Linked DNA regions of Homo sapiens. The protein of the gene in region 1 purifies or fractionates together with the protein of each later gene. This does not show direct contact. Each region holds a gene or a part of one and is shown in the gene's direction. Other genes may lie near its edges.

Evidence for each region.
Region 2: the proteins of MIER3 (region 1) and IGSF21 purify together in Homo sapiens (affinity purification with mass spectrometry; one large-scale study listed by BioGRID and IntAct). This does not show direct contact.

Annotation. Positions count from the first base shown.
Region 1 is NC_000005.10:56,941,104-56,946,318, reverse strand, and holds part of MIER3 (mesoderm induction early response protein 3), read left to right. Parts: intron 1-5,215.
Region 2 is NC_000001.11:18,285,798-18,289,297, forward strand, and holds part of IGSF21 (immunoglobulin superfamily member 21 precursor), read left to right. Parts: intron 1-3,310; exon of another isoform or gene 3,311-3,500. UniProt on the Homo sapiens protein: Involved in synaptic inhibition in the brain. Selectively regulates inhibitory presynaptic differentiation through interacting with presynaptic NRXN2.

The DNA of each region.
Region 1 (5,215 bases):
AGAGGTCCCTATAGGGGTCACCTTGAAAACGTGTAGGATTTATGCTTACTTAACCATATTTGAAAATTTCTTATCAGCCAGAATAACAAAAGCTTTCAGAAATGATACTTATCCCCTGAGTTTCTTATACCTCTTTTTCTTGAAAAGGGCAAGCACATTCTTATATATATCATCTCCTCTGCTTAGTAGCTTTGTGAGGCAGGAGTGGAGTATTATTTTATTTCCTTCTTCATGTTAATACACAGGGAAACAGAAGAGTGACTTAACTGCCCACTTGCTCTGATCTGTTGTTCTTATCTGTAGTGAAGTACAACTGTATACATGTGGTCTCTATTCTTTTTATTGATGTTTAATGAAACATGAAAATGAATAAAAGAAACAGTAGAGACACAAATATAAAGAGTAAGGATCAAGCTTTTAGAAGGAATTTTAAATTATGTTTTGATTATTTCTATATCACTTGAAATAGTGTATTCTCTTAATCTTTTTTAGTGGAATAGGGATTTAGGTATTGGTGCATGTTAACAGTCTTAGGGGATTGATGTTAATGTTCATTTTCAAGAATTATAAGTTTTTATGTTCATAGTAAATAAACTCAGTTGTGTGTTGACTGTAATGTGGCCCATATTTTGGTGTTTACAAATTTTTAGTACGTCGTGTTATGGAAAATAAGGTAAGTACTAAAGCAATTTTCTCGTAGTAGCACTTTGAGTATAGAATATGTGGCTAGATTTTAGTTACTAAACATACTAAAATAGGGTTTATGTAATATCTTTATATATTTTAATGTATGCATATTACTGCCATCTGAGAGCTTTTAATAGACCTAGATTTATAGGTAGAACTTTTTTTTTTTGAGACGAAGACTTGCTCCATTGCGCAGGCTGGAGTGCAGTGGCACAATCTCGGCTCACTGCAGCCTCTGCCTCCTGGGTTCAAGTGATTCTCCTGCCTCAGCCTCCCGAGTAGTTGGGATTACAGGCATCCACCACCACACCTGGCTACTTTTTGTATTTTTGGTAGAGACGGGGTTTTGCCATGTTGGCCAGGCTGGTCTTGAACTCCTGACCTCAGGCAGTCCACCTGCCTCGGCCTTCCAAAGTGCTGGGATTATAGCATGAGCCACCACACCTGGCTGGTAGAACTTTTTAAAGAGTTCTTATTTCTACTTTTATTAATACATAATTACCCCCTTGATGTTCACTGTGAGAAAAATTCAAAAATTCAGAAAAGCACAAATGAGAAAGTAAAATATCACTTTTTCTACCATTTAACTTTAGTATAGGTTTTTCCTTTTTTGTTAAAAGAAAAAAAGGCATTTAGGCTGGGGGCAGTGGCTCAGACATGTAATCTCAACACTTTGGGAGGCTGAAGTGGGATGATCGCTTGAGCCCAGGAGTCTGAGACCAGCCTGGGCCACATAGTGAGACCCTGTTTCTACCAAAAAAATTTAACAATTAGCTGGGTGTGATGGTGCATGCTAGTAGCCCCAGCTACTTGGGAGGCTGAGGTGGGAGGATCACTTGATCATCCCAGAAGTTCAAGGTTGCAGTGAGCTATGATTGTGCCACTGTATTCCAGAGTATGTGACAGACTGAGACCCTGTCTGGAAAAAAAAAGATCACCAGACATTTAAACAAATTATATGTATATAGTTTTGCAGCCTGTGCCTTAAGGTATCAGACAGGCGTTAGTTACTAACATTAAAATGCATCTCAGCCTCATTTGGTCCATCCAGTGATACCATCAGTTGTGTCAGATGAATACTGGCATTATTTTTCTAGGCTCAGAGGCCTTGTTGATTGTAGGATGTACTGTTGATTTCTTTTTTTTTTTTTGAGACGGAGTCTCGCTCTGTCGCCCAGGCTGGAGTGCAGTGGCGCAATCTTGGCTTACTGCAGGCTCCGCCTCCCGGATTCACGCCATTCTCCTGCCTCAGCTTCCTGAATAGCTGGGACTATAGGTGCCCGCCACCAAGCCTGGCTAATTTTTTTTGTATTTTTTTTTTTTTAGTAGAGACGGGGTTTCACCGTGTTAGCCAGGATGGTCTCGATCTCCTGACCTCGTGATCTGCCCTCCTCGGCCTCCCAAAGTGCTGGGATTACAGGCGTGAGCCACCGCGCCCAGCCTACTGTTGACTTCTAAACAGTGCAGGTGGTGGAGGAACGCTTGTATATGAAGTTTGCACTTTAGTATCAGGCTACATCCTGATTCTGATATGTGAGGGAGTGCATCATAGGATCAAGGAAATGATGGTATGTGAGGAAATGGAGGTGAGAGGGATTAGGTGATTTGTCCAAGATATTGGTTAGCAATTAGTGGATCTTTTGCCCTAAATCTGGTTCTCTTCCTGATATAAATCCTTTGACTTACAGAACAGTTCATTTATAAGTGTGACTAGACTCTACTGTGTCCCTTAAAATGTAAATAGGTTCAACAAAATACCCAAGAAGAGGAAGAGAAAAATCCTTATACCCGGGATAAGGTGATGGATCACACTTCTAAGCTGATTTAGCTACCACAGATCCTTACAGACTTTGAGACTTACTAATTCAATTTTGAAAAAATTGTTTTTATGTTTTAAAGGACTTAAGTGCTTTATTAATAGGCTCTCAAAGAGAGTTCATTTGTGAAGTGCTTCAGAGACTAGATTCACCTTTTCCAGTTTTGCTTTAAAAGTTTTGGTGCAAATGATGTGTGTTTTAGCATCAGCCCTCTGGCCACCCGTGTCATCCCTTGAACTTATTAATGCAGTTTCTACGGAGATGGTCATCTTGTCCCTCAACAGATGGTCATTCCTGTGTCTTTATAGAAAAGCGGGGTTTTCTTGAGTGGATGCTGGGAACCTCCTGTCTCCCTCACATGTACAAACTTTTATATTATTCTTTCCCTCCTGTCCTGCAAAGTATCTGTGATATCCCAGGCTAACCTCTAGATTCTATCCCTCCTGCCCTCAATTTATTCTTCTACCTTTTTTTTTTTTAAATTTCCACATAAGAATCCTACTAATGCAGATCCCACATTTGGAAGAAATTCTCTTTTGATCTTGTGTTGCCCTCAGTCACTCTCCTTTTGTAGCCAAGTCTCAAGTCATGTATGTACTTTCTTCCCTCCCGTTCAGTCTTTAGCTTGGCTTCTTCCACCATGCTATAAGGCCACCAATAATTACTTTTTTAGAGATGGTCTCACTCTGTCACCCAGGCTAGAGTGCAGCGGTATCATCATGCCAACTGCAGCCTTGACCTCCTGGGCTTAAGCAGTTTTCCCCCACTCAGCTTCCCAAAGCCCAGGGATTACTGGTGTATCCCACCACCCTGGCTAATTTAAAAAAAAATTTTTTTTATAGAGAAGGGGTCTTGCAATGCCCAGGCTGGTCTCCAACTCCTGGGCTCGAGCAATCCTACCTTGGCGTCCCAAAGTGCTGGGATTACAGGCAGCAGCTACCGCGCTTGTCCCAGGTCACCAATAATTCCTGATTGCCAGATACTAAGATTTCTTGTCTTTCTCTTGCTCAGTTTCTTTTTGGAATTTGACCCAAGTGACCATTCTTGATTATCCATACTTGTTTCTGCCTTAATTTAAGTAATCCTACTTTTTCCTCGTTCTATTTTCTGGCTTCTCCCTCTTTCTTATTTTATGATCTTTTCTTTCTTTGCCCGCATTTTAATTAACATTCTCCAGGGTTTTGGCTATTATCGTCTCACTCTGTGTGCCTTTTCTGGGTGTTCTCACTCAAACCCACTGCTTTAACTTTCACCTTAAACTCATCGTTACCATCCCATCCTTAAGTTTATCTTGTGCTTCTGTCTCATAGTGGTGCTATAGTTACCTAACTTCTCAGGCCAGAAATCTGGCAATCCATTTAGACTCCTGTGTTGCTTTCATTCCTTGTATCAAGTAACTCAAGAAAGGGATCTTTCCCTAAATTTCACTCAAATAATCCCCCTCCTTAGTTCAGGCTCTCATTCTACTTCCCTTACAACATTATTTCCAAAATACAAATCATGTTTAAGAATTTTCAGACATACCCATTGCCCATAGTGTAATACATCTGAAAGTTCTTCTGATAAGCATAGATCCCTTCCTCTTTTCTCTCTACCCTCTCCGTGGGTGAGCTCATCAACTTCTGTGGCTTTAAATATCATCTAGATGCTAATGAATGCCAGATTTATATCTTTAGCCCAGCCTGGTTCTCTGAGCTCCAGGCTCCTGGCCAACCTGACTTTTCTACTTGGATGTTTCATAGTCCTCTTAAACTTAACTGTGTCCTTTGCAGAACTCTTGTTGTTGTTGTTTTTTTCTTCAAAAACCTTTTATTCCTTTAGTATTCTTTATCTTGGCAGAAGTTACCACCATCTAGGCAATTGCTCAAATAGAAAACTGGGGAGTCCTCCTTCCCTTTCCCTCCCACGTCCAGTGACCCATTTGGTTCCACCTCAGAATATGTCTCTTCTCTTCACTTCTCTCCTCTTGTGTATCAGTACCCTCACCTAGCATGAGGCTTTTTAAGTGGTTTCCCTGCTTCTCTTGTATCTCTCCACCCTTCTTAACTTTTCTTCATGCAGGTGTTCAGTATTTTAAGAAGAAATAATGCCATGGTACTCCCTTTTTATGAGTCTCTAATGGCTCCTCATTGCCCTGGGAATGAAGTCCAAGTTCCTTTCCCTGGCCCTGAGGCCCTTTGCGATCTGTCCCTGCCTCTCTTTCCATTCTCTTGAGCCATTCTTCATTCTACTCACCAAACTTTGGCCACTTGGCTTAGCAGGGAACCACCTTCAGGCCTCACATATGTCTTTTTTTTTTGCCTGGAATACTCTTCATGGGACTGGCCTTCTCAGACTTCAGGCCTCCGCTGAAGATTGCTGACTGTCTTTCCCTGCTACCCTCTGGAAGTGGGCCCCGAGTGTTACTCTGTATCTCAGGGCTCTATTTGTTTGTTACACTCATCAAACTTGGCAGCCCTATATTTGTGTATTGTCAAAAGCCTTGTCATCTTTCAAGACTTAGCTCAGTCTTCACCCTCTGTGCATACCTCCATACTCCATACCAGTATTCTTGGGGTGTAGGTCTGCCCTTGTCTATAGTCACAATTGAATATTGAAGCCATCACATTGTATCATAATGGCTAACTCATCCTTACATCCTTACAGACTTTGAGACTTACTCCCACTAAGTTCCTCCCACTAAGACTGAATTCCTTGTGAGCAGGGATTCT
Region 2 (3,500 bases), on another chromosome or scaffold:
AATATGATGGAGCACTTTCTGTTACGATGACAGGAGGTGATGTTTGCAAGCAATATCTGGCACAGGGTAGGCGCCAATGTATGCCAGCTATTGTTATTCCCGTCATGCTATTATTACCGCATGCCAAGCAATCCCCTGGGCTCTCTGTGTGTTCACTCTTACGCACTGAATTCTCACACGTGTGCCTTACAGGGAGGCATGATCCTTCCCGTTTTGCAGATGAGGAAACAGGCACACAGAACCCTCCAACCTCACCCAGCAATCAACTGAGTGGCAGAGCTGGGATCTGATTCCAGAGCTGTGTGACCCCAAAAGCCTCTGCACATTTCCCATATCCCCAACCTCAAAGTAGGTCTTCTGCTCCCTTCTTTTGGACTCATCCATGCTGAGCGGTCAGCTCTGCTGTTTACTATTACAAGTATAATACATGTGTGACCTTGGGCAGTTCACTTGCCTCTTTCTTGGCCGTGGTTCCTGTCTGCAAATGGGGATCATGACACACGTCTCTTGGTATAGTTCACTTATTCAACATCCCTTCGTATGCCAGGCACTGTGCTAGGCTCTGGGATACAGGGCTCTTGGAGCTTACAGTCCTGAGATTCCAAGGAACAATGGAAGGGAGGGCTGGGGGACACTCAGCCTGTGTAGGCACTGGTTAGGATGCAGATTCTTTTGCATAACTACGTGCACAGCCTCTTCTGTCTGGTCCAGGTGTACGCTTTGCAGAGTTAGGATGTTTTCCTGCACAGAATATCATTAATGCTGGGAGCTTTAAGAAAGAGAAAGCCTGCTGGTTCCTTTTGGAGCCTCACATCGGAGGTGGTCTGAGGCCACTGTCCCGCCTGGGCCAGGCTACTCTTACCAGGGAGTCCCAGACAGATCAGGGTCCAGGCACAGCAGGCTGTCCTGGGGCCAGTCTGTATCGCAGAGCAGCAAGGGCCTTTTCCCTTTTCTTCATGGTATTCCCAGTGCCTGGCACATGGTAAGGTCTCAACTCATTCATTCACTCATTGACTCATCCAGCAGATATTTATCGAGCGAGTGCCATTTGCTAAATTCTGGAAACAGAGCAATGGACAGGACAGATAAAGACCCCATCTTCGGCCAGGCACAGTGGCTCACGCCTGTAATCCCAGCACTTTGGGAGGCCGAGGCGGGCGGATCACGAGGTCAGGAGATCGAGACCATCCCGGCTAAAACGGTGAAACCCCGTCTCTACTAAAAATACAAAAAATTAGCCGGGCGTAGTGGCGGGCACCTGTAGTCCCAGCTACTTGGGAGGCTGAGGCAGGAGAATGGCGTGAACCCGGGAGGCGGAGCTTGCAGTGAGCCGAGATCGCGCCACTGCACTCCAGCCTGGGCGACAGAGCGAGACTCCGTCTCAAAAAAAAAAAATAAAATAAATAAATAAATAAAAATAAATAAAAATAAAAATAAAAATACAAAAAATTAGCTAGGCGTGGTGGCAGGTGCCTGTAGTCTCAACTACTTGGGAGGCTGAGGCAGGAGAATGGTGTGAACCTGGGAGGCGGAGCTTGCAGTGAGCTGAGATCGTGCCACTACACTCCAGGTTGGTGACAGAGCGAGACTCTGTCTCAAACAAACAAACAAACAAACAAAACAAAAAAAAAATCCACCCATCCTCATAGAGCTTATGTTCTAGGAGTAGCTCATATTCAAGGACCTGTGTGTTTGTTCATCAAAAGTCTGTTGAATATGGAGTGAATGAAATCATTCATTTCAGAAGTGCCTCTCGCTCTGGGGCCAGGCAAACCCACACATCCACAGGGCTTGGCTTACCTTGTCTGCCTTGTCACCTCTGTGGTTGTCGGTCGGCCCTGGCCTCGTGGTCCCTACCCACTGGCACCATGGGAGCCTCTCAGAGCCCATGAGACCTGCCTGCCTCCAGGTACTCACTCAGGGCATCCCTGCACTTTGTTTTGAAGCTGCTACGATGACTACTAGCAAATTCTCGGTCCCTGCTCTCTGCACCCCACTCCTTATAGACACAACCCAGCCTTCTGGCACCTTCCACCTGCCTCCCTCTCTGGGTGTGGGCTCCCTTCTTTCATTTACTGAATTCCACATCCTCTGGCATTTTAGCAAGAGATGCTTTGCTCTCCAGCCCCATAGACAGAAAGAGCCCTGGAGGGTGGGGAGGGACACAGAAAAACAGATGGTCCAGAAAGGTGTGAGTGCTCGTGAAAATACCCCATGAGTGAGCACTTCCCACCCACCAGGGACTCTACAAGGCTCATGTAATCCTCATAGGGAGGAACGTTGCCTTATCCCCATTTCACAGATGAGGAAACTGAGACTAGGGGAGGTGGAATGACTTCTTCAGAGCACAAAATTAGGAACCGAAATCAAACATTCAACTGGGGATGGAGGAAATCAGCCTTGCTTCATGCTCCAAAGCCTCCCATAGACAGAAAGAGCCAGCCTAGGACCAAGCACTCCCTGAAAAGGGCCTACTTCCTCCAGGAAGCCTTCCATGATCACCCTTCCCTCCAAGGGGATTCTTGGCTCCTTCAGAAGTGTCAGAACATCATTGGATAACACTTGGTAATTACCTGTTGCTGCTGCAGCCATCATCTTACTGACTCTGGAACCTCAGCTAATTGTGGACTGTGTACCTCTTGTGAATAAGGTCGTAATGGGCTGCAACCATGTCTGAAATGTATTTCCTTCTCGGCCGTGAGGCTGCAACTGCCCCTGTATGTCTCAGGCGTGGAGAAATGTTTCTAGAATTAAAGGCGAGGTGTCTTCCAGCACACCCACCACACCTTCTGTCCACAGCCTGTACTAATAATCCCCAACTCCCACCTGGCCTCTTTCTTGGGCCCTCTAACCACCAGGAACCACAGAATAACATCCTTGCAAATAGCTGCTAGCCCGCTGGCCCCACCTGAGCGTGTCTGAGCCTCCCATTTCCTTTGCCTTCCGAGAGGCTGAGGGAGGAAGGAGTGTGTACCACAGACAGCTGGGACAGTGGGGCCTGCCCTCCAGATCCCTCACCCTGCAGCTGAGATAAGCACTTGTCTCCAGCTGCCTGAAGCAGGTTTCACAGAAGCAGTTATTTACTCCTCTGGCTGACAGTGAGGCCCTGACACAGCCCCAGAGAAACAGATGTAAATAAAACCAAAGGAAAACTAGTCTCGTCCTTGAAACTCCCCTGTCCCTCAGCCTGAAACAGAGATTTACGACTCGGATAATTCTTCAGTGCTTTATCTGGGGTGTGTGGGTATGTGTGTGGATGTGTGGGGTGTGGGTGTATTTTCCTCGTAATAAAACCCTCAGTCTCGGCGAATAAATTTGAGGAGACAGTTTTACTGACAGATTTTTTTCTCTTTTGTGTAATAAAAAAAATGGAGTGAAATTTGAGATTGGGACGATAAGGGCTGCCGCATTTTAGGAGGAGATAAAAAAGCAGTACCTGAAGGGAGGTGAGGCCAGAAGACGGGCTGCCAGTTAAACAGGCAGGATGCCTTCCGCTTTAT